Homo sapiens: one gene and its partners. The protein of the gene in region 4 interacts with the protein of the main gene of each other region in a biochemical or structural test. Each region holds a gene or a part of one and is shown on either strand. Other genes may lie near its edges.

Region 1 (7,270 bases), on a different chromosome or scaffold from region 4:
ACTGATGCTCTTGACTACTTTTTATTTTTGCAAAAATGAGAAAGCACATTTTATCAGGAATCCATCACCTGCAACATAATTTATATTTATTAGAAATACCTATATTTCTAATAAATACAGATTATTTATATATATTTCTAATAAATACAGAAATTTTGTGTGACAGTTGTGGTAGCTGTCCAAATAATTAGCTTCATCTAAAATTATTTCAGCCCAAACTCAAATCCCAAGAAAAATCATTTCGATGGAAATACTTCATTTCATTCACTATAAAGCCCAACATAAAGCTAGATGTTTTAGTGTAGTCCTAAGTGACATTTTGTTGCTACAGCAACGAAACTCTGCTACCTGTAGCCATGATTTGTTAAGAATTCCACCAACGAGTAAATTCTGTGCTGTGTATTCATAAAACCAATAGAATGATTCTAAGCAACATAAAAATTAAGGCTTGATTTCCTATTTATGATTTACCCACACACATACTTACAACATATATACTACATATGTACTACATACATGTAATTATGACTCTGAGCCCCATCAAAATGATAAAATACCAAATTTCCATTTTAAAATGGGCACAGAACAAAAGCTGGTTTAGATTTCATTCACTAATTGCTACTTGTTTCCCAAAATTTATCTTAAAAGATAACAGAGACTATCTAGAGATAATTTTCAAAACAATAAAATTTATTATTTATATCCAATCTCATTCCAAGATGGGGGAAAAAAATATTCAGAGGTATAATCTATCTGTTCCAGTATGTATGGTTTCCTAAGCAATGAGTTGACTTCGAAAACACCAAGCTAAAGAATAAAGAAAAAATGTGGACATTACCACCTTTATTCACCAAACTACCTCTGTAGGCTACTTACCCTCACTGGGGGGCTCCAGGATTGCACCCGAGGCTGCTGTCCGCCCTGGGAGCTCTGCAGATCTTTTGAGCTACAATTAGCCACAGTGCTGCTCTGAGACCTTAATGCATTTGTGCAGTTGGTCCCACTTCCCCCACCAGGACCAGGTTTCCAAGGCCTCTGTTTGATGCCATCCAGAAGTCTGACCAGCAAGATGTTACTGGGAAGCTCCTCGACACCCGAGCCAACAAGAGTCCTGCACTCGGGACATCTGAGTTCATTTCGAGAACCTACGATCCCCAGCAAACATCGCTTGCAAAACGTATGCTGGCAAGGCAAGACCTTCGCAGAAGCATCAAGGCGCTCTAGACACACCGGACACTCCAAAAGATCCAACAAGGCTGATTCATCCATCTTTATCTACTTTACTGAGAAAAAATCTTCAGAAATGTTCATAGTTGTGTGCATCCCTTAAAATGACTCATGTAACATCCATTTCAGACTTTGCTCTAGAGTCATGGGGAAAAGGGGGAAAAGAGAACATGAGTGTTGTTATCTAGGGAAAAAGTTCAAAGGAGCCAAGAATCAAAAAGTACCCAAAAGTACACTATTCCCTGTCTGAATAGTGTAGCTTTGCTTTGGAATGTGGGTTCCTAAACTCCAAAGTCAACAACTGAAAACAAAACAGGCTTTCTAAACAACGCAAAATTAACCCCTAAAGATATCTAGGGATTCACTGGGCAAACACAAGGCACAGAGTATTACATAATTCCCGCAGAAGGATTTATGAAGTGCAATAAGGAACATAATTTCTTAAGCTCTGAAAGTGGTATCAGCTGCCTTAATAAAGTCTTCAACTCATAGGAGAAGCTGACAGAGGCCATTGAAAGTTTCCTCTACCTGAAATTTACTTTTATATCCAACTAAATTCCCTTTTTTAAGCCACTTTAGCGTTTAAGAAACCATGCCTCATGTAATCGCTCGTGGTAAATGATCCCAATATTAAATACATATGTTTCTTCGCTGTTATTAAAAATAGAACTGTTTAATTTTGCCCAACCAAAAAGAGCTGAAGGTTGACAATTCTAAAAGACACAGATTTGCTTGAAAGCAGCTAAAACAGAAAAGCGCCCTTCAGGGCAGTAGTTGATAAACTCTGAAACACATTTCTGAACGGCCTGTCCTAATCCCATTCAGAAAAGCTGGCAAAATTATCACCAAAAGAATTCGACAATGGAAGGTTGGACTGGAAACTGTGGGCATATGAAAATGAGGCCATTCAGGAAAAAGCAAGCCACTTACTGCGCCGCTCTCCCCCCACCGCCAAAATAAATGTAAAAGTGAATGCCCAGGAGAACGGGAGTAAAAAGATTTGGCTGGGAGCATTAACAGCTGTTCTTGACAAAGCCGGAGCGGGGGAGCCCCAGGGCTGCACCCCCGCTCCCACGGCGCCAAGCACAGGTACTCCCAAGCCCGCAGGGAGGCGCGGCGGCCGCTCGCCGCAGACACACCCCGGGGCCAGGTGTCGGCGGCACCCGGCAGGAGCCGGTCGCGGCCTGGGGCTGCGGCCCGGCCGGTCCCGGCGTGGGGATCTCACCCTACAGCCTCCCTCATCTCCGCCTCCCTTTAGCTCAGGCCGGGGACACAAATCCCTCTACACGACTGCGGGAAGTTTTCAAGGACTTAAAAATAAATGCGCAGGCTTAAGTTGCGAAACTCAGCCCCACAGAGTGCCACGGGGAAGCAGCTTTCTAGCCCAGCCAAGATAAGGCGACAGTCCCCAGAGAGACCGCGCCATCCGGGAAGCAGGGGGTGCTGGGCTGCGCCCGGGGAGACCGCGGCACGGAGCCCTGGCAGCTTCCTGCCCGGAGAAGGCAGAGGCCGCGGGCTGCTCCGCTTCCGCAGGTCCTGATTCCCGGCCCACGGGGACCCGAGGGCGAGGGGAGAGAGAGACCGACCCAGGGCGGGGATGGGGGAATGTCGAGACCACCGCCTTCTCCGCGGCTAGGGGTCCGCCGACGCTGGGTCCCCGTCGACCCCGCGCCGGCCGCGCGCCCTACCTCGCGCCTCGGCTCCTCCTCTTTGTTCGCGGCCCCGCAGCGGCTGCGGCGGCTGATGCAGATGCGGCCCCACCGCGCTCGCCGCTCGCAGTGTCTCTGACGCCGCGGCGGCACCGGGAGACTCCTCTCTGCTGCCCCCCTCACGCGCGCACACACACCACGCCGCCGCCGCCGCCTCCCACTTTCCCAGCCAAGGAGGGCGGAGGAAGAGGAGGAGGAGGCCGGGACGCAGCCGGCGCCCGGGGCGCAAGGGGGCGGCCCCGCGCCACAGCGCCTTCCCCGGGAGCGGGCGCGGCACCTCTCGGAGCCACCCGCCGCCGCGCCGGCCTCCCGCGCTGAGGTGACCTGCGCCCAGTACCCCGCCGGAGCCCGGGGGCGGGATTGGGGCGGCGGCCTGAGGGGGCGCTGCAAGAGCCTAGAGGATGGGGAGCGGGGCCCCCAGGGGACTACGAGGGGAAGGCTCGGGGACGGACGCCTTCTCCCTGAGGAGAACGCGCCTGAAAAATGGAGCCACCGGACGGGAAGGCGGCGGGAGTGGAGGCTGGGGGAAGCAGGAAGAAGCCCCGGGACAGGGTCCCGCCGCCTCCTCCTCCCCCCGGCGGGGCTGGGAGCCCTGGACGGACCCTTCCTCCCCAGGCTGGGCGAGTCGCGGCGCGGGAGGGGCTGGGTCCGCGGAGGCGGCGGGAGCAGCCCTGGCGGGAACCGATCCCGCTGCGCTTTGCGTCTGGTTGCCCACCCCGGACACTTACTTGGTAGAGTCGGAGCGAAGTGTTGCCCCTTAGGGCCGAGAGCGGCGTGGTGAATCGATGGGGACAGTGCCGCGGCCACCTGTCCGCACCCAGCCATCAGTCACCCCAGGACCCAAACCGGAGCAAGCCTGGAGGACCGCTGACCCCAAAGCCCAAGACTAGGAAAACGGTAGTACGGACTTCCAACCCAGGCTCGGGGGCTCTGTTATCCCTGCCCTAAGTGGGGAGAATTGAGTCTGACCTCAGGTGGGCTGGCACCGCAAAGCACGCTGAGAGGCGCCTCTTTTATCTGAGCCTGGGTGGCTGCCATCATCGCAGTAATCTTTGTTTTGGTTGCCCCAAGCACACACCTGTAAACCGAAGTGGAGTTTTGAAAAACATCTTGTCCATAGGTTTTGAGGTTTTTCAGTCTCGATTTAGTGGAGAAGCAAGTTAAAATTTTGTCACTGATCTAAAGTTGACATTACTATATTTGCATTTACCATCAATTTACAAAAAGTTATCCCAAATACCCCTCCTCAAAGGTGGGCAGAAACTAGGTGGTTATAAGAAGAAAGGGTTACAACAGATGATGCAAGAAATCTCTGCCCAGCCACCAACTAGGTTTATGATTTGACGAGGAGTCTCAGTTTATCCTCTAGTCTCCAGCTAGGGCCACAGCTAAACCATTCAAGACATAAGGATCACATAAGCCTGAAAAAATTATGACAGCTAACAATGATCACTCACTGTAAATCAGGCACTGTGCTGAACATTTTTCATGCATCAGTTCAATTCTCTCAGCAACCCTCTATGTCATCTTTTCTCAGCCTTGTTCTAAATAGATTCATATGCTGAGAGTCATAATGTATGAAAACCAAAAATAATAGCCCACTTCCCCTTCCATTAGAAGTGAGCAAATACATGGGCATTTGAGCTGAGAAAGACGACGGAAGGAATGAATGGAATGGAGAATTTCTAGTCCAGTTTGCAAACTGAAAGTTACTACTTAGTTCTGCATGTGGAACTGGGCAGATAGATGAAGATGAGGCTGACCAGAAGATTACAGTCAATAAACAGATAGGGATTATTTGCAGTTATTAAAACTGAAGCTCAAATAGGTTAACTTTCCCCTGGTCACACAGTAAGTAATGTTGAACCAAGACTCAGTCCCAGCTCTCTGGATTCCAAGTCCAGTTCTCTTTGCACCATTCCAAGGCCCTGTCTTTTGCACAGGACCGTCATATCCCCACCCTAGGCAAAGCAAAGCAGTGTGTCTCTTCCCAAGGGAAAGAAGAAACTGTTAATCATGTAATTACTCGAAAGCAAGGGACAGTTTTTATTGTGTTCTTATTTTGGTTTCCTATGTATTTTTAGAGAGCAGCACACAAGGTCATAGATAGAATGGTGCAGCTCTTGAAACTCCTGGCAAAAGAAAATCAATAGTCACACCCATTTTCTTTTCTTTTCTTTTTTTTTTTTTTTTTGAGACGGAGTTTCACTCTTATTGCCCAGGCTGGCACCCACCACACCCAGCTAATTTTGTATTTTTAGTAGAGACGGGGTTTCTCTATGTTGGTCAGGCTGGTCTCGAACTCCTGTGACCTCAGGTGATCTGCCCGCCTCAGCTTCCCAAAGTGCTGGGATTACAGGCGTGAGCCACGGCGCCTGGCCACACCCGTTTTCAAAGAACTGAAGACAGTGTGTCCCAAGACTGCAGTGGTCGAAGAATCTGGCATACATCTCATGAATATTATCTGGGATGTGGCTGCAGTTCTTTGAATGCCCCTGGTGCATGTTCTATAGTTTTTAGAACACAACACTTTTATTAGCTTTAGTTACTCCAGCTGTAAAGTGAAGTTTTAGGCAAGTTACTTTAACCTCCTGAGCCATTTTCTGTCAAATGGTTGAAAAAAAAAATATCTTTCTCAGAGTGTTGTGGGATGACTAGATGAGACAACATGCTGGTTCTTTGTAATCTGTATATCTCTATTAAAGTCAGATAGCATCATTATCATAATCTGCCAAGAATCACCCAGGCAGTTATTCTGGGCAAAGTCCTTTCTTCCCAGGGTCTTAAAAAAGTTTGGGATAGGCCAGGCACGGTCACTCACACCTGTAATCCCAGCACTTTGGGAGGCCGAGGCAGGTGGATCACCTGAGGTCAGGAGTTCAAGACCAGCCTGGCCAACATGGTGAAAACCTGTCTCTAGTAAGAATACAAAAAAAAAAAAAAAAAAAAAAAAATTAGCCAAGCATGGTGGCAGTCACCTGGAATCACAACTACTTGGGAGGCTGAGGCAGGAGAATTGCTTGAACCTGGGAAGTGGAGGTTGCAGTGAGCCGAGATTGCGCCACTGCACTCCAGTCTGGGTGACAAAGCAAGACTCTGTCTCAAATAAATAAATAAGTTTGGTATAATTCTAGTAATTGCAAAGTCCTGTCAATAATATAGGGAAAGGGGCAGTTGGGGAAGAGAAGCATGTTCATCTTTTCATGTCTGGGAACTGAACATGAAGGAAGGAATGTAAGCATGTTGTGCTTAAGATCCCTGTGACTTTGAGTAGAACCATGAAAAACATAAAACACACCCTGTGACATAATAATGATAGCTTGCGTTTACACAGTTCTTATCCTCCCAAGACTTCAAAGGACTTTCATATATATTATCTCATCTGTCTTCTCAGCATCCCTCAGAAGCGGTAAAGACAGATATGATTATTTCCATGTAGACGGGAAACAACAAGATGTAGATAAGTTATTGCTCTAAGTGGTGACAAAAATCAGATACTTAAATATCCAATCCAGAGCACTCTTTGGTAAACTTTGGTACTATGCTTTCACACGGATATATATACATGTGTCTGATTATCATTTTCCTTCAAACCTTGTTTCTTCTCCAGTTGCCATGATATTGGTAAATGATAGCACTCTTCATTCAGTTGTTCAAACTAGAAACCTAGGGGTCATCTTTGATTTCCCTTTTCCTCTCCATCAATTCTGCTAGCTTCTCCCAAAATATATTTCAATTTATACCCACTTTCCTTTGCCTCCAGTGCAAGTTTATTTAAGCCACCATCACCCTTTGTCTCTGTCCGTCCTAAACCAGCCTCTCTGTTTCCACTCTTGTCCCCATAATCTCGCCCAGAATGTAGTAACATTCAGAGTGAGCAACAAAAAATGCATAACATATCAGTTACTACATTGCTCCAAACTCATCAATTACTTCCCATCATGCCTGAAATTTAGAGTCAAACATAGTCTTTGTCTTACAAGACTCACTGCCACTTGGACCCTGCACCACTGCATCCCAGCATAGTACTCTTTCTGTCTTCTTTGCAGCACTTTTTGTGGTCTAATTTTTTTGATTCCTTATTTATTGCCTATCTTCTTTACCTGAATATAAGTTCCCTGAAGTCAGTGACTGGGTCTGTCTTCTTTACCATTACGTCCTTCACAGCCAACACATAGTGGGTTCCAGTAACTAATTCTCAAATAAGGAGTTAATCAAGTATACAGTTACATTTCTTGCTATCCTAAATCTACATAGATATTTAGTACCTCACTGCCCTACAGATGGGAAATCAGGCAAGCAATGTTCCAAGTTCCATTGAGAGTCTTTCTTAT
Region 2 (7,023 bases), on a different chromosome or scaffold from region 4:
AGAATAGAGTCCAAGAAGCAGAGCAGCAAAGAATATGAAGACTTTTAAAGCTCATGGTAAGTTTTTTGTTTTTTTTTTGAGACAGAGTCTCACTGTCACGTAGGTTGGATTGCAGTGGCACAGCCATAGCTCTGAAACCTCAAACTCCTGGGCACACGCCACCAAGCTCAGCTAATTTTATTTTATTTTATTTTTATTTTTTGGAGATGGAGTTTCGCTCTTGTCGCCTAGGCTAGAGTGCAGTGGCATGATCTTGGCTCACTGCAACCTCCACCTCCCGGGTTCAAGTGATTCTGCTTCCTCAGCCTCCCAAGTAGCCCAACTAATCTAAAAATTTTTTGTAGAAGACTGGGCGTGGTGGCTCATGCCTGTAATCTCAGCACTTTGGGAGGACGAGGCAGGTGAATCACGAGGTCAGGAGTTTGAGACCGACCTGGCCAACATAGTGAAACCCCGTCTCTCCTAAAAATACAAAAAATTAGCCGGGCGTGGTGGTGGACGTCTGTAATCCCAGCTACTCGGGAAGCTGAGGCAGGAGAATCACTTGAACCCGGGAGGCGGGGGTTGCAGTGAGCCGAAATTGTACCGTTGCACTCCAGCCCGGGCAACCGTGCGAGACTCCGTCTCAAAAAAAAAAAAAAAAAAAAAGAAAATTTTTTTTTTGTAAAGACAGGTTTTCACTATGTTGGCCAGGCTAGTCTTGAACTCCTGGCCTTAGTGCTGGGATTACAGATGTGAGCCACTGTACCAGGCCCTAAAAGTTTTTTGTTTGATTAGTTTTTAATTTTTTTTAGATCATTTAGATCTAATCAAAAGTGGCCTGCCAGTTGCTACCTAAAAAAGAGCCTTGGCCTGGCACAGTGGCTCATGCTTGTAAACACTTGAGGGTGGGGGTTCAAGACCACCCTGGGCCAAATAGCAAGACCTCATCTCTACAAAAAATAAAATTAGCTGGGCGTGGTGGCATGCACCTGTAGTCCCAGCTATTCAGGAGGCTAGGGCAGGAGGATCGATTGAGTCCAGGAGTCTGTGGCTGCAGTGAGCTATGATCACACCACTGCACTCCAGCCTGGGTAACAGAACGAGGCTTTGGCTCTTAAAAAAAAAAAAAAAAAGAGCCTGGGAGTGATGGAAGACTATCCTGAATTACAGTTACCCTTCTTTTAGTTTTGATTTATAGTAACTACGTATTAAATTAGGGAGAATTTGCAAGTCCAAAATCCAGCTGATCAAACAAGCATCTTTTAAGAATACTGCCTGGAACCTAGGTGGGGAAAAAGCATGTTTGGAATTACCTTGCCCAAACCAGACAGTTCTGCAAAAGATCATCCATTGAGCCAGAAAATCTTAAGCTTATAGTAGATGCCTTGTCCATATTTATATGTTGTTTTGAAAATCAAAATCAAAATAAACCTTGTTAATTACTAAGAACAGATAATGATCTTTAGAAAATTAATTGATTTTATATGTAGATATGTATCTTAGTGATTCATCTATGATAGAACAGTGAAGACAAACCCCAGTCCCAAATGGGATCTTCTGTTTTTGCATAATATGAATTAATCATGAGATGTGCCTTTCCTCCCAACATTTTGATGTCTCTGATTGGGATTCCTCTTAGAGTTGATGGTATATTAACAATTGCTATCAGCCAGGTAGCAGTAGTAATGTATTTCACATTGCCTGCAAATGTACATACTTGGTTGTTTCTCCTAGTAGCATACTGGCCAAGTGTAGTCTCTCAGTGTTCAACTAACAGATCAATTTTGCCACCATTTGAGAAAGGAATATCAGTCCTGGTTGTTGTCCGAAAACCTTCTTTTGACACCTGGTGAGATGTCAAATGACATCATCAAAATTTGCTGAATGAGTATCAGTTTCTTGGAAGAAAATATTAGGGACAAAAATGGAGTACTTCTAAGAAATACTTACCTCCTCATGGCACAGAGAATGATAATGTATAGGAAAACATGCATATTGATGACTCTCGAGTTGAAAAGTGGTTCATGGGCCCGGTGCGGTGGCTCACGCCTGTAATCCCAGCACTTTGGGAGGCCGAGGCGGGCAGATCACAAGGTCAGGAGATCGAGACCATCCTGGCTAACACGATGAAACCCCGTCTCTACTAAAAATACAAAAAATTAGCTGGGTGTGGTGGCTGGCACCTGTAGTCCCAGCTACACGGGAGGCTGAGGCAGGAGAATGGCATGAATCCGGGAGGCGGAGCGTGCAGTGAGCCAGGATCACACCACTGCACTCCAGCCTGGGCGACACAGTGAGACTCTGACTCAAAAAAAACCAAAAAACAAAAAAACAAAAAAGAAAAGTGGTTCATAAGATTCGAACTCTGTGAAGTTTTAGAAATAAATTTATGATGCTTATATTTGTTATGTTTACATGAGAGCTGTATATGATAAAATTCTGTGTGAAGGTCTGTTTTCATAAATATAAGGTAAAAAATTCAAGACATAAGAAAACCTTAAATCATAGCTTAATTGCCAGCATTGTTTTGTTTGAGTAGTACAAAAATGAAAATGATGCATCTTACAATGGATACCATCGTAGATTTGATGAAATGGTACCATATTGATTCTATTTTTTAAGCTACTAACTTTAAACAAACAGCAATTATCCAGTGTTGAAGTTGATATTGTTAGCTTAAAATAGGGAATCTGTTTCAACTTGCTTTGCGCTAAGAAGAGCTTTTAAATTTAATTATGCTACAAGTTTTTACATAAATATGTAACTCCTTGAATTGGAATTACCCATTTTTAGAAAAAAAAAAAACAAAACAGAAACGAAGCGGCAGATTTTTTTTAAGAATGGCACTAGCCAAACAAGATTTCCTGATGCTTTCTTTTTTACATCTTAAAATAGCACTATATGGAATTGTAGTGGAGTGTTTGAAAAATATTCTGTCAAATCTAAATCTCTGAGGCCTGGGGAAGTGGAGGACTGAAAATAGGGACTTACTGGCATCATGATTTTGTGTCCTTTCCCCTTCTTTATACTATATTGACTTAGCTTCCTCCTCTGAAAATAGGAAGCTAAGGAATAAGTTGATTTAAGAAAAAAAAATTTTTGGCCATGTGTGGTGGCTCACACCTGACCTGTAATCCCAGCACTTTGGGAGGCTGAGGTAGGAGAATTGCTTGAGCCCAGGTGTTTGAAACCAGCCTGAGCAGCATAGTGAGACCCTGTCACTACAAAAAATAGAAAAAAAGTAGCCAGACATGGTGGCACATGCCTGTAGTCCCAGCTACCTGGGAGGCTGAGGTGGGAGGATTTTTTGAGCTCAGGAGGTCAAGGCTGCAGTGAGCCGAGATCATGTTACTGCTCCAGCCTGGGAGAAGAATGAGACCCTATCTCAAACAACAACAGCGACACCCACAACAGTTTCTAAGGCTGAGGCATAAATTATTTTTAGAATAAAAATATATCTTTTAGATTTTAAGCTGCAGTTATCTCCAGTAGTTATTGGTATTTTCATTCTTCCCCTGGGCCTTTGGGATGTAATGTGAGTATGTCTACCTTGCCTTTGATAGCCTTAGTTTCCTTATCTTTGACAAATTTTTATTGACATTCTTTTTTTTTTTTTTTTTTTGAGACGGAGTCTCCCTCTATTGCCCAAGCTGGAGTGCGGTGGCATGATCTCGGCTCACTGCAAGCTCCGCCTCCCAGGTTCACGCCATTCTCCTGCCTCAGCCTCCTGAGTAGCTGGGACTGCAGGGGCCCGCCACCATGCCTGGATAATTTTTTTGTATTTTTAGTAGAGATGGGGTTTCACCGTGTTAGCCAGGATGGTCTCAATCTCCTGACCTCGTGATCCACCCGCCTCGGCCTCCCAAAGTGCTGGGATTACAGGCGTGAGCCACCGCACCCGGCCTGACATTCTTAACATTTACTTATAAGCTTTCCCCCTTAAAATAAAGATAATTTAAAAAAATTTTTTTATTTTGAGACAGAGTCTTGCTTTGTCGCCCGCCCAGGCTGAAGTGCAGTGGCGTGATCTCGGCTCACTGCAACCTTCACCTCCCAAGTTCAAGCTATTCTCTTGCCTCAGCCTCCTGAGTAGCTGTGACTACAGGCACGTGCCACCACACCCGGCTAATTTTTTGCATTTTTAGTAGAAACGGGGTTTCACTGTGTTAACCAGGATGGTCTCAATCTCCTGACCTCATGATCTGCCTGCCTCGGCCTCCCAAAGTGCTGAGATTACAGGCATGAACTACTGTGCTCGGCCTAAAATGAAGATAATTTTTAAATGTGCATGGTAGAAAAATGACAAAACAAAACAAAAGCCAAACAATATAGACATGTATAAAGAAGAAGAAAGGAAAACCCCCAAATTGTGCATTCGGAAAAACCTAGTTAGCATTTTATATGCTGAAGAGTCGGCCATGTTGGGGAGGGTGTACTGTGGTATTTTTAGATTAGGACAGGAAGGGGTTTGGCCTCTTCTAGCAAAAACTGTAGAAGAAATAATCATACTAAATTATCCTGAAGTAAGACATTTAAAATATTTATACTACATGGAATGCTGTTAATTTAGCTTTGAACGTTTCTGTTGATTTGTTCTTAGTTTATAGAATTTTTAGTTTATGAAAATATACCTCTGTTGTTTCTCCTAAAGTTTGTGTGACATAGTTGGAAAATACCTCTGCTTTGTTGAAGTGAAACTAAGAACAAAAAAAAAAGACTTCTTAACATTACTATCAAAAGAGACAAAATAGATTAAAACTCAGAATTACTAGAACTTTAATATCCTACGATTTTTGCTTCCTTTAGAAAAAATATTTTTCCATCTGATTTGTATAATGATTAACATAAACTTATTGCTATTGTTTTATACAGACAAGGTCTTTACTAGGTGTATTTGAAGAAGATGCCACAGCTATTTCCAACTATATGAACCAGTTGTATCAAGCTATGCATCGGATTTATGATGCACAGGTAAAACACTAAGGACTAACTTGATGCTTTTAAAACACGAATCTTTAAGCCTCATGAGGACAGATAGTGTCTGTCTTGTTTACCACTGCTTTAGCCCTGTGTTAGGCTCATAGTAATAAATATTTGTTGAATGGATTAATGAACATTGAGTGTATTACAGAACTGACATTTCAACTACTAGTGTACAGTTTGTAGTACTACAAAAGTGATAGACGATTGAAGCATCTGCCCATTCTCCCCAAACATAGTTTGGGGGGAACCCCCCATTAAACTCACTGATAGTGATCTTTCCTAAGATTTGAATGAAGACCCCATGTCATCACTGGTATTTTCCCTAATCATGCTTATTACAATCTTATGGAGCACTTCCCCACCCCCACTTTTTTTTTTTTTTTTTGAGATGGAGCTTTGCCCTTGTTGCCCAGGCTGGAGTGCAGTAGTGTGATCTTGGGTCACCACAACCTCCACACCCCAGGTTCAAGTGAGTCTCCTGCCTCAGCCTCTCAAGTAGCTGGGATTACAGGCATGCACCAGCACGCCTGGCTAATTTTGTATTTTTAGTAGAGACAGGGTTTCTCCATGTTGGTCAGGCTGGTCTCGAACTCCCGACCTCAGGTGATCCGCCCGCCTTGGCCTCCCAAAGTGCTGAGATTGTACCCAGCCCCCTTTTTTTTTTTTTTGGAGATGGAGTTTTGCTAATGTCTCCCAGGCTGGAGTGCAATGGTGCAATCTCAGCTCACTGCACCCTCCACCTCCCAGGTTCAAGCAATTCTTCTGACTCAGCCTCCTGAGTAGCTGGAACTACAGGCATGCACTACTACGCCCAGATAATTTTGTATTTTTAGTAGAGGCAGGGTTTCACCATGTTGGCCAGGCTGGTCTCGAACTCCTGACCTCAGGTGATCTGCCCGCCTCGGCCTCCCAAAGTGCTGGGATTACAGGCGTGAGCCACTGCACCTGGCCAACACTTTCCCTTTTTCAGTGGAGGATTTGAAAGTTGGCTGCCTCTGTCTAGTTAAAAGAAGGCACTAAAAATTAGATGTACCTCTGGAGTACAAGAAGATGAAGGGTATGACTAAGTTTTCTTATTGACCAGCAATAAAATTTGAAGCTATGTTTGGATAACTTAATTATAAGCTTAAACAGCAACCTAGGTTCTGTAATATACTTTCTTTGGGATTAATTAAGCGTACAAGTTTTATTTTTTTCCCTTCTCATATTGTTTGCTTTCTGGCTTCACATTTTCATTATGTACTTAAGAGTTGCTATGTTGTTGTTTAGTTTTTCCTTGTGATCAGGCTCTGAAGCTTTGCTTTCTGACTACAGAGATATATGATTAATATGTTAAAGAAATGTTCTCTTTGTTATATTCACCAAAAAAACTAAATTAAAGTTTTTCATATGGCTGTGTTGCTATGTTATATGACTGGGTCAACCACATTTTGGTTGTATGTTATTAAGTGCTTACTGTAGTCTAGTATCAGCATCTACAGAGGGCAATAATCAGTCATCAACGTAGATGCTCTAAAGATTTTGCTAAGGTTATATCAGTTTATTTCTAGGCTTTAAAGTATTTAGTGCTTAGTTTTTATTAGCAAAAAACAAACACCAGGAACACTGCTGAATTCCTGGAGAGTGTCTATTTTATGGTTTGAGTTTTCTTTTAAAGTGCTTTAATGGTAGTACCCCTTTCCAGTGATTTAATGAAGGTTTTAAAAAACATGTACAATATTTATGTTAAGTGATAATAAATAAATTAGGTATTTAATTAGAAAAAACTAAAACTTTTTTCCCAGTAATATGCTAATTTGAATGCTTTTTCCATAGAATGAATTAAGTGCAGCAACACACCTGACCTCAAAACTTTTAAAAGAATATGAAAAACAGGTATTGTATATCAAAGTTTTAAAAGCATAATTTTAAAAGTATAGTATCTGTATAGATAGACTTTCAACAAGAATCCTTAAGTTTTCTTGAATTCACAGAATATGCCATTGAAATTTCATGATAGCACTTATGTTCAGATAATTTTAATGATTTAATATTAAATACAGAGGCTATCTAGTTTAC
Region 3 (7,023 bases), about 37 Mb from region 4:
CCAGGACACCCATGCACAGAGGCGCTTGCCCGTGGAAACAGCCGCACCAGCAGCTCTCGGGGCTTCCTCAACCTGGAAAGCTCTTGCTTGGCTGCCCCTTCTTGAGCCCTAAAGGGAAGGTGTTTGGTCGCCTTGAAAATCTAGAGTGAGTTGGGCGTAGTGGTCCACACCTGTAATCTAGCACTGTGGGAGGCCGAGGCGGGAGGATTGCTTGAGCCCAGGAGTTTGAGACCAGCCTGGGCAACATAGCAAGACCCCATCTCTACAAAATATCAAAAAATTAGCTGAGCGTGGTGGTGCTCCTGCAGTCCCAGCTACTTGGGAGGCCGAGGCAGGAGGATTCCTTGGGCCCAGGAGTCTGGGGCTGCAGCAGTGAGCTATGATGGCCGTACTGCACCCCAGGCTGGGTGACAGAGCAAGACCCTGTCCCAAAAAAAAAGAAAAAAGAAAATCCAAGGAGTGGGTTTGAGGCCTCACTTTGGGGCTCGAATATTTGTTTTTTGGTTTTTCATTTGTTTGTTTTAAGACAAAGTCTCGCTCTGTCACTCAGGCCGAAGAGCATTGGTGCGATCTTGGCTCACTGCAACCTCTGCCTTCTGAGTCGACCCTATTCTCCTGCCCCAGCCTCCCCAGTAGCTGGGATTACTGGCACGCGCCAGCACGCCCGGCTAATTTTTGTATTTTTAGTAGAGATGGGGTTTCACCATGTTGGCCAGGCTGGTCTTGAACTCCTGATCTCAGGTGATCTGCCTGCCTTGGCCTCCCAAAGTGCTGGGATTACAGGTGTGAGCCACCGTGCTCAGCTGGGGCTCTAGAATGTTTAAAAACAGTCACCCCCTCGGTACTATGGACATTGGGACCAGATGGTTCTCTGGGGTGGGGCCGTCCTGGGCCCTGCAGGGTACTGAGCAGAGAGCCTCCACCCACTCCCTGCCAGGAGCACCTGCCACCCTGAGTTTTGACAGCCACGACTGCTTGAGGCCATGGCCCAGTGTCCTGGGGGGTGCACAGTGGCCCCTGAGTGAGGTGGCCTGGCATGGGCTTGGCTGATGTCAGCTGCCACTCCGGGTGCTCTCTCCACAGGTTCATCAAGAAACTGGAGCACACCTGGAAGGCCCTCGTCCACGATGGGGTGAGCGCCTGCACCCTCCTCCCATTCCTCCTCCCATCCCTCCTCCTCCTGTGAGTGCCTGCACCCTCCTCCCATCCCTCCTCCCTCTGTGAGTGCCTGCACCCTCCTCCCATCCCTCCTCCCATCCCTCCTCCTCCTGTGAGTGCCTGCACCCTCCTCCCATCCCTCCTCTGTGAGTGCCTGCACCCTCCTCCCATCCCTCCTCTGTGAGTGCCTGCACCCTCCCCCCATCCCTCCTCCCTCTGTGAGCGCCTGCACCCTCCTCCCATCCCTCCTCCCTCTGTGAGCACCTGCACCCCTCCTCCCATCCCTCCTCCCTCTGTGAGCGCCTGCACCCTCCTCCCATCCTTCCTCCCTGTGAGCGCCTGCACCCCTCCTCCCATCCCTCCTCCCTCTGTGAGTGCCTGCACCCCTCCTCCCATCCTTCCTCCCTCTGTCCTCCTGTCTGTCGTCCCAGCCTTCCTCCCATCCGTCACTCCACAAACGCAGAGTACCGCCTGGGGCCAGGCACTGAGGACTAACGTCTGTGTGACCACAGCCTGTAGAATCCAAGATCCCAACAGGCACCCCCATTTTTCAAAAGAGCGTGTAGAAGGTCCAGGCAGGAGCTTCCAGAATAAGCCTTGAGCGGGTCAGGATGGCAGCTGGCAGAGGCCTCTGGGGATGTCTTAAACCTTGCCAAGGCCCGGAACCTGCTGCCCAGGGCAGATAGGAGCGCTGTCTCGGCTCTGACGAGGCTGGCCAGGGTGTCCTGTGCTGCCGCCGCATGTCCCTGGGGTTGTCCTTGTCCCCTGGCCCAGAGTGGCCGGGCACCACCTCCCACTGCAGCCTGCGGGGGTGGAGTCGTTCACAGTCCTGGTACGTGGCCACTCCTCACCCAAGGAGGCTGGGAAAGGAGGTTGCATTCTGGGAGGCCGAGATCACATCCCAGCAGGGCCCCAGCCAGGCCATCCTGCCTCAGCCTCCCCTACAAGTCCACGTGGGCCACTGTGCCTGGCCGGAATACTTTATTCAGCTGGTTTAAAAAGTCAAAAATGCTAACAGGTCTCTAGTGGAAAAGCCTCCACCCATTCCCTGGCACCCAGTCTCCCTCCCCAGAGGGAGCCACTGTTCCCTGTTCCGTGAGCCCCTCCCAGGAAGCCATGGCGCCATGGACCCATCTCGAGCCTTTTCACACAGAAGGTGCCCCCCACACACATACAGCGTCTGTCTGGGGCTGTCCCCAGCTGTTGATTGATGCACCCTCTGCCCCCGGGCACCCCCCCCAACTCTCTTCCAGGACACGGTGTCCGTCCACCGCCCCAGCTTCTATGCCGAGCGCTTTTTCAAGTTCATGAGCAACACGGTCTTTCGGAAGAACTCCTGTAAGCCACCTGAGCCCCGCAAGGCGGGAGGGACCCTGGGGAAGGCCCAGAGCGCCGTGGGGCAGGAGGGACTCTGCGGGAGGCCGAGAGCCCCCTGGGCAGGGCAGTAAACTCAGAGCCCCTGTGCCCCCCTCAGACCGGGCCTCATCCGGAGGTAGGGTAGTCGGGATATTTGCTCTGCACAGCGGTAGAGCACGGGTCTGGAGCCACCGCCAGAGCCTGAATCCTAGCCTGGCCTCGTCCTGCCCATGTGGCCTTGAGCAGGCACCTGCCTCTGTGCCTTGGTTTCCCCATTGGCACAGCACTGTGAGGGTACAGTGTTTATATATGGGATGGGTGGGCCTGACTCAGCAGATAGCTCACAGTGTGTGGGGCTGCCCACAGCATCACCATCGCCAAGGAAACGCACCCCGGGCAGGGGAACGCAGGAGGCTAGCCCAGCAGGGCATGGTCGGGAAGGTCCCAGGGCAAACAGTGGTGGGGAAGGTGGGGACTCGGGATTCACCCACAGGGTGCCCGGGGGAGGTCCCCATCTCTCAGGGCTCAGCTTCCCCTCATGGGCCACTGTAGCATCTGGACGCAGACTCTGGGTTCCAGGCCCCTGTGCAGACCTCAGCCCGTGGCCAACCTGCTGCCAGATGGATTCCCCCCTGGGGTCTGTTTCTCAGCCACCCTCCCCACCAGAAGGCTCCCGGGCTCCCCAGCATCCTGCACAGGCCTGGCCCACAGAGATGCTTGGGAAGTGTCTGGTGGGGGGCATGAATGATCTGCGGGTCCGCACCCACGGGGGTTGCAGGGAGGTGGCAGGGACAGGCACGCCAGTGCCCAGCGCTTGCAGGCAGGCTGCTCTTCCCGGCCTGCACACTTGCTCACGGCCTCGAGGTCAGGGACCCCCTCTCATCAACACCGTGGGAATTGGCAGACACCACGTGTCAGGATCTGTCTCCAGAGAGCCAGCCGTTGAGCCTGTCCCCACACCCCACTCTCTGGGACCGATGCCACAGGATCATTCCGTCATCCAGGGCTGTTTGCCAGCCTTTGGTGATTGTAGGAAGCTGCACAAGGCAAACTGAGCACCTACTGTTTACCAGGAGCTGTGTGGGTCATTCTGGGGGCAGAGGTCACAAGAGCTTGGTGAGGAGGCAGAGCTCACACAGCACTGAGGACAGGCCTGGCCCTGTGCGGGACATCACCTGCCCCACCTCACCCCACCGCTAAGGTCGGCCCCCAGGGCCCAGAGAGACCGAGCCGCACAGCCAGCGGGTGAGCCTGGATCTGCGCTCAGGCCCTACATGCTGAGCCACAGGCTTCTCTAACCACAACACCTGGTGCTCCCCAAGGCTGTCAGTGTCCATCTGAAAGTGGGGGCCCTGCCCGGGCTGGGCCGCACATAGAAGGGGTTGAAGCCTGCAGGCATCCCTGGCCAGCTCATTAGATGGGAGTCACTGGTCTGCAGGATCCCAGGAGGGGCAGGCACTGTGCCAGGTCCCAGTGTGTCTCATAGAGACAGTCGGGTGGGCAGGACAGGGAACTCGGGCTCGCAGTCCCTCCCCAGGCAGACCCCGGTTTTCCACCAAGAGGTTGTGGTGCTTCCTGGCCTCAGGGACCGGTAGGGGTCTGGTGGGCCACAGGGACGTGGGGTATATGTGGGCGGCGGCCCTGTCTGGGCTTTGCTATGAGCCCCCAGCAACCCCAAGCACCAACCCCCACCCTTCCCTGCAGCCCTGAAGTCCTCGCCCTCCAAGAAGGGGCGCGGCGGAGCCTTGCTAGCTGTGAAACCGCTGGGGCCCACCGCTGCCTTCTCGGCCAGCCAGATCCCTAGCGAGCGGGAGGAGGCCCAGTACGACCTGCGGGGGGCCCGCAGCTACCCCACGCTGGAGGACGAAGGTGAGGGGCAGAGGGCAGAGTGCGCTTGTGGGCGCTACAGGGGGTGCCAGCAGCAGCCCCGTGGGTGGGGTGCCGCCTCATCCTGAGTGCCCATCGCTCAGCCACCCCCTCCGGATCTGCAGGGCCGCCTGCCCAGGGAGTGGGGGCTGCTGGGACCGCCCCAGGGAAGAGCCCAGGGGGAGCTGAGTATAGAAGGCTCCACCAGGTGGGGTGGTGACAGCTCCCGCCTTCTCTCACGGCCACTGTCATCTGAGGTGCACCAGGATGCCATCGAAGGCATGCAGCCCCCAGGCTAGGGAATGAAGGAAGGGACATAGCCATGCAAGGGCCCTGGGGCAGGACCACACCTGCTGAGGGAACAGCAAGGAGCCCGTGTGGCCAAGCAGCGCGGAGGGGAAGGGAGGGGGGGTGGGGAGGGGAAGAGAGCAGTGGAGGGGAAGACAGCGGGGAGGGAGAGTGGAGAGGGGACGGGGCCAGGCTGCACAGGGCCCTCTGGGCTGTCTGGATTCTATTTTGAGAGCGGTCAGAAGCCTTTGTGTGAGGGGGAACGTCGTCCTTCCCTGCCGTGTGGGGAGGTGGGAGTGTCTGGGAGGCGGGCGGGCACTGGGCTGTGGGTTCCCAGGGTGAGCCAAGCCTCAGGGAGAATCGACTGTGTGTTTGGGGGCTCGGAGGCTCCGCAAGGTGCCCACAGTCCTCTCCCCTCAGGCCGGCCCGACCTCCTGCCCTGCACGCCACCTTCTTTCGAAGAAGCCACTACAGCCTCCATTGCCACGACTCTGTCATCCACATCCCTCTCCATTCCTGAGCGGTCCCCCTCGGAGACGTCGGAGCAGCCGCGGTACAGGTGGGCGAGGCATCCGCAGTGCATGTGGGCGGGGCATCCGCTGTGCGTGGGGGCGGGGCATTCACTGCATGTGGGCGGGGCATCCGCTGTGCATGTGGGTGGAGCATCGTATGTACGGTGGATGTACATACACTGCATGTGGGTGCGCGGGGGCGGAGCATCCAATGTGTGGGAGGGAGGAGCATATGTACAGGTGGGCAGGGCTGCCAGGGGGCAGGTAGGCAGGCGGGTAGGCAAGGCAGGTAGACTGAGCAGGCGGGCCACTCTCTTTCTGGGTGTCACGTGTTTGCTGTATCTCTGCAGGCGGCGCACACAGTCGTCTGGACAGGATGGCAGGTGAGACCCAACCCCCTTCCTTCCCTGGGTCTCACCAGCTCCTCCTGCACAGCTCCCAGCTCCGTTTCCCGCCCCCCAGCCCCTCTGCTCTCTGCCCATTCTCTCCTGGGGACAGATTTAAGATTGTAGCACTCGGCCCTAGCACCGCACACAATCTTCCAGCCACTTTGTTTTTCTTACAGCCAGAGCCAGGGCAGCTCTGGTCTGTGGATCCTTCCTTATTTCTTCTTCTATTAAGTTTTTTTTTTAACTTAAAACAAGATACAAGAGGGAATATCGTGAAATGCGCCCCCTCCTGCCCACGGCCTGTCCCCTCCCCAGGAGCAACCACTGGGACTGTGGGTTTTGTCTCTTGGAAGATACTTTCTGGGAACACAGCAGACGTGCACCAGGCTTGTGGTTCCCTTTTATTTTGACACAAATGGGCACACCCGTGCACGCCGCCCACACCTTGCTGTTGTCACTCGACTGACGGGGATCTCAGGGGTGGGTGCGCGCCGTTCCTGTCACGCCTGCGTGCCGTCCTTCCATCCCATGGACTGCACCTGGCTTTAAGTGCCCAGCCCTCGGGGACATTTGCGAGGTCCCTGGGGTCTCACTCTTGTGAACACTGGGGCAGTGGCGCGGTGTTGCTTTTCTTAACCGTGTTTTAATCGCTGCCGCCTGGTGAAAGAAACCCCTTGGTGCCCTGGGTGGGATGTGACCCTCCCTGCAGTCTAGCGTGCCATTTGGAGAGACATGTTACATGGCCAGGCCCGGCGGCCGGGACACTGAGTCACTTGTGTCAGGGCCTCGGCTGCCAGGTGCAGGCACTGCCTGGAGGGTGGGCAGGGTCTGTGGCACCCACACCGGTCGGGGCTGCCATTTGCTCATATGCCCCCAGAGCCCGCTACACCCCAGGCCCTGCTGGCACCACAGTCACCAAGGGACCCAGGTGGACAGTCCCCGGGCTGGGAGTGACAGCCAGAAAGAACAGACCCAATCAGGAGGCTCCCAACTCCCCTCTGGGACTGGCCCTGGAGTTCACTGGGCACTCCTGGGGGTAGGATGGGGGAAGTGAGGAGGGAAACCGAGGCACAACCTCCCATTGCCTGCAGGCCGCAGGAGGAGCCACCCGCGGAAGAGGATCTGCAGCAGATTACAGTGCAGGTGGAGCCTGCGTGCAGCGTGGAGATTGTGGTCCCCAAAGAGGAGGACGCAGGGTGAGCACGGCCTCGGCGGGAGGTCGGGGCGCCCACCTGCTGCGGGCCCAGAGGAGCCAAGAGCACCCCGAGGTTTCATCATGAAGCAGTTCTTTCTTACTAGGTTGTATTCACAGATGGTGGATTTTCCCATAAGTTTATTTTTTGATTGAAGGGAGTGGTTCTCGACTAGCCGGGGTGATCCTAGCCCCCAGGGGACACTGGGCGATGCCTGGGGACATTTGTGACTGTTAGAACTGGGGGGTGCTCCTGGCATGG
Region 4 (7,023 bases):
TTGCAGTGCTCTTGAGAATCAAGCGAGGTGGTGTCTGGAGCTAGCCACTCAGTGCTGTTATTTTTACAGTCGTGGTTTACCCAGGGGCTCTCCTCTGGGGGCTAGAAGATACTTGAGGCCCAGCTTCATGGGGAGCTCCCCTTTGCCCCAGACGCCATGTTGCAAACCCTTGAGAAGGATCCTGGACAGAGGCCCTTGCTTTTCATCTGGAATTCTGAGTGCTGCAACCTTGCAACTTTGGTCCAGTTAGAATTGGATCGGAAGCTAGTCAGGCAGCAGGCGAGCCCCAGTTACTCCCAGATAACCTCCTGCATTGCTGTGGTTTCTGGAGCTTTCTGTAGGGTGGGCAGTGGGAGCCAGGGTAGGTGGGGTAGGCCCGCCCCTGCGAGTGTCTTCGGCACCCTCCCTTCCACCCCGCCCTGCGCGCGGTGCTCTGCGCCGACAGCCCGCCAACCTCTTAGCCCCAGGCCCAGGCCCTGGTGGAGGGGAGAGCTGGGAGGGCTGAGCTGGTCCAGGTGGCAGAGCCACTCTTGGAGCCCCAGCTGGGGTGGGTCCAGGGCCTGTGCTCCTGATTCCCATCTGGAGTAGCCTCCCAGAGCTGCTTCTGGGCTGGTGGTGTGGCAGTGCCATCCTTCATGTATTTGGGTTCTCTCCACAGAGGGACCATCTGTGTTCTCTCCACCCCTGTCTTTGAAAACAAAGATGATACCACGCTGTACATCTTAGTCTGCAATCTGCCATCTTCACGTGACAGTCTCTCAAGATCTTTATATATGAGAGACATATTTTCCTTTTTAATATCTTCACTGTATCTCTTAGGAGATCTGTGATTTTTTTTTTCCCAATCCGCCATCATTTACTCAGAGTCAGCATTAAAAAAATTTAAAATTTGTGAGAGGACAACTATGTCTGATAAAGCATGTCATGGAAGGCTGGGCACAGCAGCTCACACCTGTAATCCCAGCACTTGGGGAGACCGAGGCAGGCAGATCATGAGGTCAAGAGATCGAGACCATCCTGGCCAACATGGTGAAACCCTGTCTCTACTAAAAATACAAAAATTATGGTGGCGGGTGCCTGTAGTTCCAGCTACTCTGGAGGCTGAGGCAGGAGAATCGCTTAAACCTGGGAGCCACTGCACTCCAGCCTGGCAGCAAAGCGAGACTCTGTCTCCAAAAACAAAAAGAAACAAAAAAGAAAAAAGCCTGTCATGGAATGGGCTCCTGCCCTGTCCCCGGCCCCTGCTTTTTTTTTTTTTTTTTTTTGAAAAACAGGAATATTAGTGTAGGGTTTGGGAATTAGGCTGTAATTTGTTCCTAAGGGGGCATGGGTTAAAGCAAGTTGAGAAATACTGGCTTGAGATGTTGGGCCAGGGAGTGCAGAAGCCAACACCGCTCTGCCCGGGTGTGCACCAGGGCTCAGTGCGTGCTCTGCCCGGGTCTGCACTGGGCCCTGCTGCGCCCTGGCCCTGGGGCCACTTGGACTTTGGCTGCCTCACTCTTTCATTACCCAAGTATCTACTGAGTATCCACCATGAGTTCTGGGGGCAGAACTGTGTTCAAAGCAGGTGGAAATCTCTGCCTCCGTGGGGTGGACATAGATGGGTTATGGGGACTCCAGTCTCTGAGTGGGTGGGGAGGGCAGCGTGCCTTTTGTAATTCCAGCTACCAAGCCTGGAGCAACTGCTGTTTTTCTGGAATCTGTTTTTTCAATCTGTGCCCCAGTTCCTCCTTCATAATGGGTGGGAGTAGGGATAGTTGATGATAGCAAGTGCTTCCCATTTGTTATTAGAGGCTGTTCCTTTCCTTCGACTCCCAGTTCCCCTCCCTTGGAGGCAGGCAGGGCTCCAGGATCATGACTTCTCTTCTGGAGATGTTTGTGCCTATGTGAGCATGTGTCTGCAGAAGTTCATTATTTTCTAACTTAGGAGCACAGAACTGTATACTGTTCTTCACCTTCCTTAATTTTGAAATTTTTTATAAAGGCGTGGTCTTCTTATGTTGTCTAGGCTGGTCTGGAATTCCTGGGCTCAAGCAGTCCTCCAGCCTCTGCCTCCTAAATTGCAGGGATTACATGAGTGAGCTACCTTGCCCATCCCTGCACCTTCCTTTTTCTCTTAAGAAGTCTCAGATCATCCCAAGTCAGCATACAGACCTGCCTCAATCTTTCCCCCAGCTGCAGAATGTCTCATTGCACAGATGCCTCACAGGCATTCTACCTCACGACAGCCTGTGTATTAAACACTGCTGTGATATTTCATCAAATCGAAGGCGCTGTCATTGGGGAGGCACCCTGTTTCATATAGTGCCAAGAAAAAGGCGTGCCCAGTTAAATCAAGACAGACCCCAACTGTGAGATTAATCTGCATTCCAGCAGTGTCAAAATGTGGAAGAGGGTGCGTTGTGGGATGGATGGAAATAGAAGTAGTTTCGCGTGGTACACCAGGAAACGAGACTGGGGAGGAATACAGCCCAGCAGGGTGTCCCGGCTTGGATTTTGAAGCCCAGTCCCAGCCACACTTGTTCCCTGCCTGACCTTGGGTAGGGGCCCCAGTGTCTCAGGAACACAGGAGCAGTGACACTTGCCCTGGGGCGGGGGCCATCCTGGAAGATGCTGTGAAGGGCTGGCTGCACTCCCTGTGGCTTATTTAAATCACTGGGATTTGCGTGATTACACTCTCTGAATTTTCTCATTCTTAGTGAACATTTTATTTTTCTTGTTGGTCATATGAGTATTTTCTAGATACAAGCAAAATACACGGGGGGTTCAAAATGCGTTGGGTTGAAACACCTAATTGCAGTGTGGTCAAAAATGGGGGATGTGGACAATTTGGTGTAATTCAGCCTAATATATTTTTCATTTTGGTCTCTGGTCATTTTCACTTATTAGACAGAACAGTTTGTAAGTATCCAAAGAAAATTATTTTGTTTTTTTTTTAGCTGATTGCAGTGGTATGATCATGGCTCACTGCAGCCTCCACCTCCTGGGCTCAAGCAGTTCTCCCACCTTAGCCCCCTGAGTAGCTGAGACCACAGGCATGTGCCCCCACACCTGGCTAATTTTTTATCTTTGGTCTCTACAAAGTGGGTATCCATGTTGCCTAGGCTGGTCTCAAACTTCCGGATGCAAGCCATCGTCCCGTCTCAGTCTCCCAAAGTGCCAGGATTGCAGGTGTGAGCCACCGAGCCCAGCTCAAAGACAGTTCTTTCTCAGCAAGTTCTAAACCATGAGTGACAGAACTAGTTTATTGTTCTTTATTTTATTATTATTATTATTATTATTATTATTATTATTATTTTATTATTATTTTGGGATGGAGTCTCGCACTGTTGTCCAGGCTGGAGTGCAGTGGCGCGATCTCGGCTCACTGCAACCTCCGCCTCCCGGGTTCAAATGATCCTCTTGCCTCAGCCTCCCGAGTAGCTGGGATTACAGGCGCCCGTCACCACGCCCGGCTAATTTTTTGTATTTTTAGTAGAGACTGGGTTTTACTATGTTGGCCAGGCTGGTCTCGAACTCCTGACCTCAAGTGATCCTCCACCTTGGCCTCCCAAAGTGCTGGGATTACAGGCGTGAGCCATCGCACCTGGCCTGTTTTTATTTTTTATTTTTGTTTTTTAAAAACTTTTTAAGAGATGGGTCTTGCTTTGTTACCTAGGCTGGTCTTGAACGCTTCGGCTCAAGCACTTGGTCCACCTTGGCCTCCCAAAATGCTGGGATTACAGGTGTGAGCCACAGTGCTTAGCCTCTAGTTAACTGTTCTTAAACCAGGCTCCCTTCTGCTGGGACCTACTTCTTGTCCACCAGCTTCTCTCCTCTACATCCCTGGGCTGCCAGGACCTCTGTCCCTGCCATGCAGACTCCCTGCTCCCAGTGGACTGTCCCCTCCAGGGAGTCCTGCGGGCCAGCTCTTGCCTTGCAGTGTCTTCAGCTCCTTTGGCTAATGAATGCTGCTTCTTACTCTTGGTTTAACTTTACAAAACATTGGTAACTTATAAACTTGAGCTTGTCATTTGTTCCGAAGAATTCACAGGAGCACTCTCTCTCCCTCATTCAAGGCTCAGGGTGGTGGCTCATTTTCAAGGGGCTGTGAAAAGAGAGGGTCACTCCTTTTTGATCATTTCCCTGCTGCCTGGCTTCAAATGGCCCTCAGGCCAGGTCACTTTAGGGAAATTGGTGATCGCTCTTGGTATTCCACTTTTTTTTTTTTTTTGAGACGGAGTCTCGCACTGTCACCAGGCTGGAGTGCAGTGGTGCGATCTCTGCTCACTGCACCCTCCGCCTCCCGGGTTCAAGCAATTCTCCTGCCTCAGCCTCCTGAGTAGCTGGGATTAGGCGAATGCCACCCCTGACTAATTTTTGTATTTTTAGTAGAGACGGGGTTTCACCATGTTGGCCAGGCTGGTCTCGAACTCCTGACCTTGTGATCCATCCGCCTCAGCCTCCCAAAGTGCTGGGATTATAGGCATGAGCCACTGCGCCTGGCGTGGAATTTCACTCAGGTCCCTTCAGCTCTCTCTGGTTCTGACAGATCTTGCCCAAATTCCCATGGTTATGTGGTCATTTGCTTGCCTGTTGCTGGGGGTGGCTGGGAGGTGGCACTCAGCTGTTCGACTCTGAGGCCCAGGACTCCTGGCTGCTGGGACTCACGTGTGTCCCTGCACAGGGAGGAGTGGATGCGGGCCATCCAGATGGTCGCCAACAGCCTCAAGCAGCGGGCCCCAGGCGAGGACCCCATGGACTACAAGTGTGGCTCCCCCAGTGACTCCTCCACGACTGAGGAGATGGAAGTGGCGGTCAGCAAGGCACGGGCTAAAGTGGTAAGTGCTGGGAGCAGGGGTGGGGCTGCCAGCCTGCGGTGCCCCCACCCCCAGTGCTGGCCTGCTCTCCTTGGTTTCCATAACACAGTTCAGGGGGCTCAGCTGAGAGACAAGGCTGCCCTGCAGGGTGGGGTGATTTCAGGTGGCAGGTGCCCTAGGGTGTGCTCCATGCCCGTAGGGGAGGGAGCAACCTTGGGTGGACCCACTGCAGGTTCGTCCTGGGAGTTGGTGAAGACCTGGCTACCCCCACGTCAGAGCCCAGCCCTCCCAAGGCCCTGTGCCTGCAGAGCCTGGTCTGAAGGCCGCTTCAGAACACACAGTTGCTGCCCAGAGCCTCCCTTCCTGCTCCAGCCTAAGCCGTTTGGCAACAGTGTCTTTTGGTTTTCCTCTTTCTTTTGTTAAAATTTCCTCCCACGGGCCATGAGCCAGGCGCTGACTGCCCCCACTCTCCCTGTCCCTGGCAGACCATGAATGACTTCGACTATCTCAAACTCCTTGGCAAGGGAACCTTTGGCAAAGTCATCCTGGTGCGGGAGAAGGCCACTGGCCGCTACTACGCCATGAAGATCCTGCGGAAGGAAGTCATCATTGCCAAGGTGCGTGCCCCGGGAATTGCGCTCGCGAGCCTCTGTGGGGGCTGCGGTCTGGAGCCTGACCCTGAGGCCTGGACGCTTACCCGCGCTTTCTGCTGCTGTGGGCTTATTTCCCCCACAAATTCCCCCTAGTCAGAAAAGGGGGAGCCTGAGGCCCAGAGAGGAGCAGCAGGCCTTGCTGCTGAGTCCCCACCTCCACCCTATGTTAGGGGCTGGGGGTGCCTGTGGAGAGAGAGAGCCTCGGGGCCCCACCCAGCAGGTACTGTCAAGGGAGGCTGGGGCCTGTTGGGGAGGACGTCGCTGTTGGGGAGTCCCGGGCTTTGCTCAGGGTATCCCAGGTGGAGGCCGGGCCAGGAGTGGAATTCTACTTTTTCCCTTATTTGAATTTTTTGTAGTGGAAGATTCCAAAGACATTCAAAAATTTAAAAAGAAAATAAATATTACGGACCCCCATGTAGCCATTGTCCAGTTTAACCAGTTATCAGCGTTTAGCCAGCCTTGTTTCCTTAGCTCTGCCTGTCCCTCTTGTTCTGGAATACTTTAAGGCCTGTCCTAGACAACACGTCACTTCACTCATCCATACTTGAACATGTGTCCTGACAGATGAAGACTGTAAAGAATATAATCATGTGGTGCTGCCATCAGAGCCAACCAAATTAGCTGTTCATTCCTGATGTGACGATTGGGCCTAAGGCAGCCTTCCTCAGCCTCAGCACTGTTAACGTTTTGGGACAGATGATTCTGCGCTGTCGGGGCAGCCCTGTGCATTCTAGGGTTTCAGCAGCACCCCTGGCTTCTACCCACTGAAGCCAATACTAGCTCCCCAAGTTGTGACAATCAAAAATGACTTTTGGGTTGGGCGCCACAGCTCACGCCTGTAATTCCAGCACTTTAGAAGGCTGAGGTGGGAGGATCGCTTGAGCCCAGGAGTTCGAGACCAGCCTGGGCAACAAAGCAAGACCCTGTCTCTGTAAAAATAAAAATAAATTAGCTGGGCATAGTGGCGTGCACCTGTAGTCCCAGCTGCTCAGGAGGCTGAAGTGGGAGGATCAGTGGAGCCTCAGAGGTTGAGGCTGTAGTGACCCATGTTCACACCACTGCACTCCAGCCTGGGCGACAGAGCCAGACCCCCAGCTAAAAAAAAAAAGGGAAAAAAAAAAAAAAGACTTCAGACATTCTCAGGTGTCCCCTGGGGATAAACTTGCCCCAGAGAGAGCCTGTGTTCACGTTGCTGCAGGTGGCTCCAGATTTTTGGAACCACTCCTGGTGGTTCTGCTGTACAGTCAGGTACCAAATTAGAACCTGAATTAGAGTCACCCAAAGGGCTTGTGAGACAGTGCTGGGCCCACCCCGAGTTTCTGACTCAGTGGGCCTGGGGGTAGGTCCCAGGAATTTGCATTGCTGCCAGTTCCCAGGCGGTGCTGAGGTGCTGTGTGGGGACCACACCAAGAAGCACTGTTTTTCCTTCTTTGGGCAAGAATGCTTTCTAGGTGGGACTTCCCACAGCCTGTGGTGGCACCTCGGGGCTCTCGTGATGTCTGTTTGTCTCCCTTGCAGGGACGTCACAGGTGTCTTGTCCCTAGCAGCCTGGTCCTTACATTGTGACATTC

What was found.
Region 1: the proteins of AKT2 (region 4) and SH3RF1 form a complex in vitro, tested with the Homo sapiens proteins (2 studies listed by BioGRID and IntAct, with this or other methods).
Region 2: the proteins of AKT2 (region 4) and APPL1 form a complex in vitro, tested with the Homo sapiens proteins (one study listed by BioGRID).
Region 3: of the proteins of AKT2 (region 4) and PIP5K1C, one has a biochemical effect on the other in vitro, tested with the Homo sapiens proteins (one study listed by BioGRID).

Annotation. Positions count from the first base shown.
Region 1 is NC_000004.12:169,267,944-169,275,213, forward strand, and holds the start of SH3RF1 (E3 ubiquitin-protein ligase SH3RF1), read right to left. Parts: upstream 3,014-7,270; 5' UTR 2,916-3,013; intron 1,365-2,915; 5' UTR 1,270-1,364; coding exon 877-1,269; intron 1-876. UniProt on the Homo sapiens protein: Has E3 ubiquitin-protein ligase activity. In the absence of an external substrate, it can catalyze self-ubiquitination. Stimulates ubiquitination of potassium channel KCNJ1, enhancing it's dynamin-dependent and clathrin-independent endocytosis.
Region 2 is NC_000003.12:57,230,712-57,237,734, forward strand, and holds part of APPL1 (DCC-interacting protein 13-alpha), read left to right. Parts: intron 1-2; exon of another isoform or gene 3-53; coding exon of another isoform or gene 54-56; intron 57-4,854; coding exon 4,855-4,953; intron 4,954-6,780; coding exon 6,781-6,840; intron 6,841-7,023. UniProt on the Homo sapiens protein: Multifunctional adapter protein that binds to various membrane receptors, nuclear factors and signaling proteins to regulate many processes, such as cell proliferation, immune response, endosomal trafficking and cell metabolism.
Region 3 is NC_000019.10:3,641,447-3,648,469, reverse strand, and holds part of PIP5K1C (phosphatidylinositol 4-phosphate 5-kinase type-1 gamma), read left to right. Parts: intron 1-1,083; coding exon 1,084-1,132; intron 1,133-2,411; coding exon 2,412-2,496; intron 2,497-4,218; coding exon 4,219-4,383; intron 4,384-5,088; coding exon 5,089-5,227; intron 5,228-5,530; coding exon 5,531-5,563; intron 5,564-6,660; coding exon 6,661-6,765; intron 6,766-7,023. UniProt on the Homo sapiens protein: Catalyzes the phosphorylation of phosphatidylinositol 4-phosphate (PtdIns(4)P/PI4P) to form phosphatidylinositol 4,5-bisphosphate (PtdIns(4,5)P2/PIP2), a lipid second messenger that regulates several cellular processes such as signal transduction, vesicle trafficking, actin cytoskeleton dynamics, cell adhesion, and cell motility.
Region 4 is NC_000019.10:40,240,331-40,247,353, reverse strand, and holds part of AKT2 (RAC-beta serine/threonine-protein kinase), read left to right. Parts: intron 1-4,666; coding exon 4,667-4,820; intron 4,821-5,284; coding exon 5,285-5,416; intron 5,417-7,023. UniProt on the Homo sapiens protein: Serine/threonine kinase closely related to AKT1 and AKT3. All 3 enzymes, AKT1, AKT2 and AKT3, are collectively known as AKT kinase.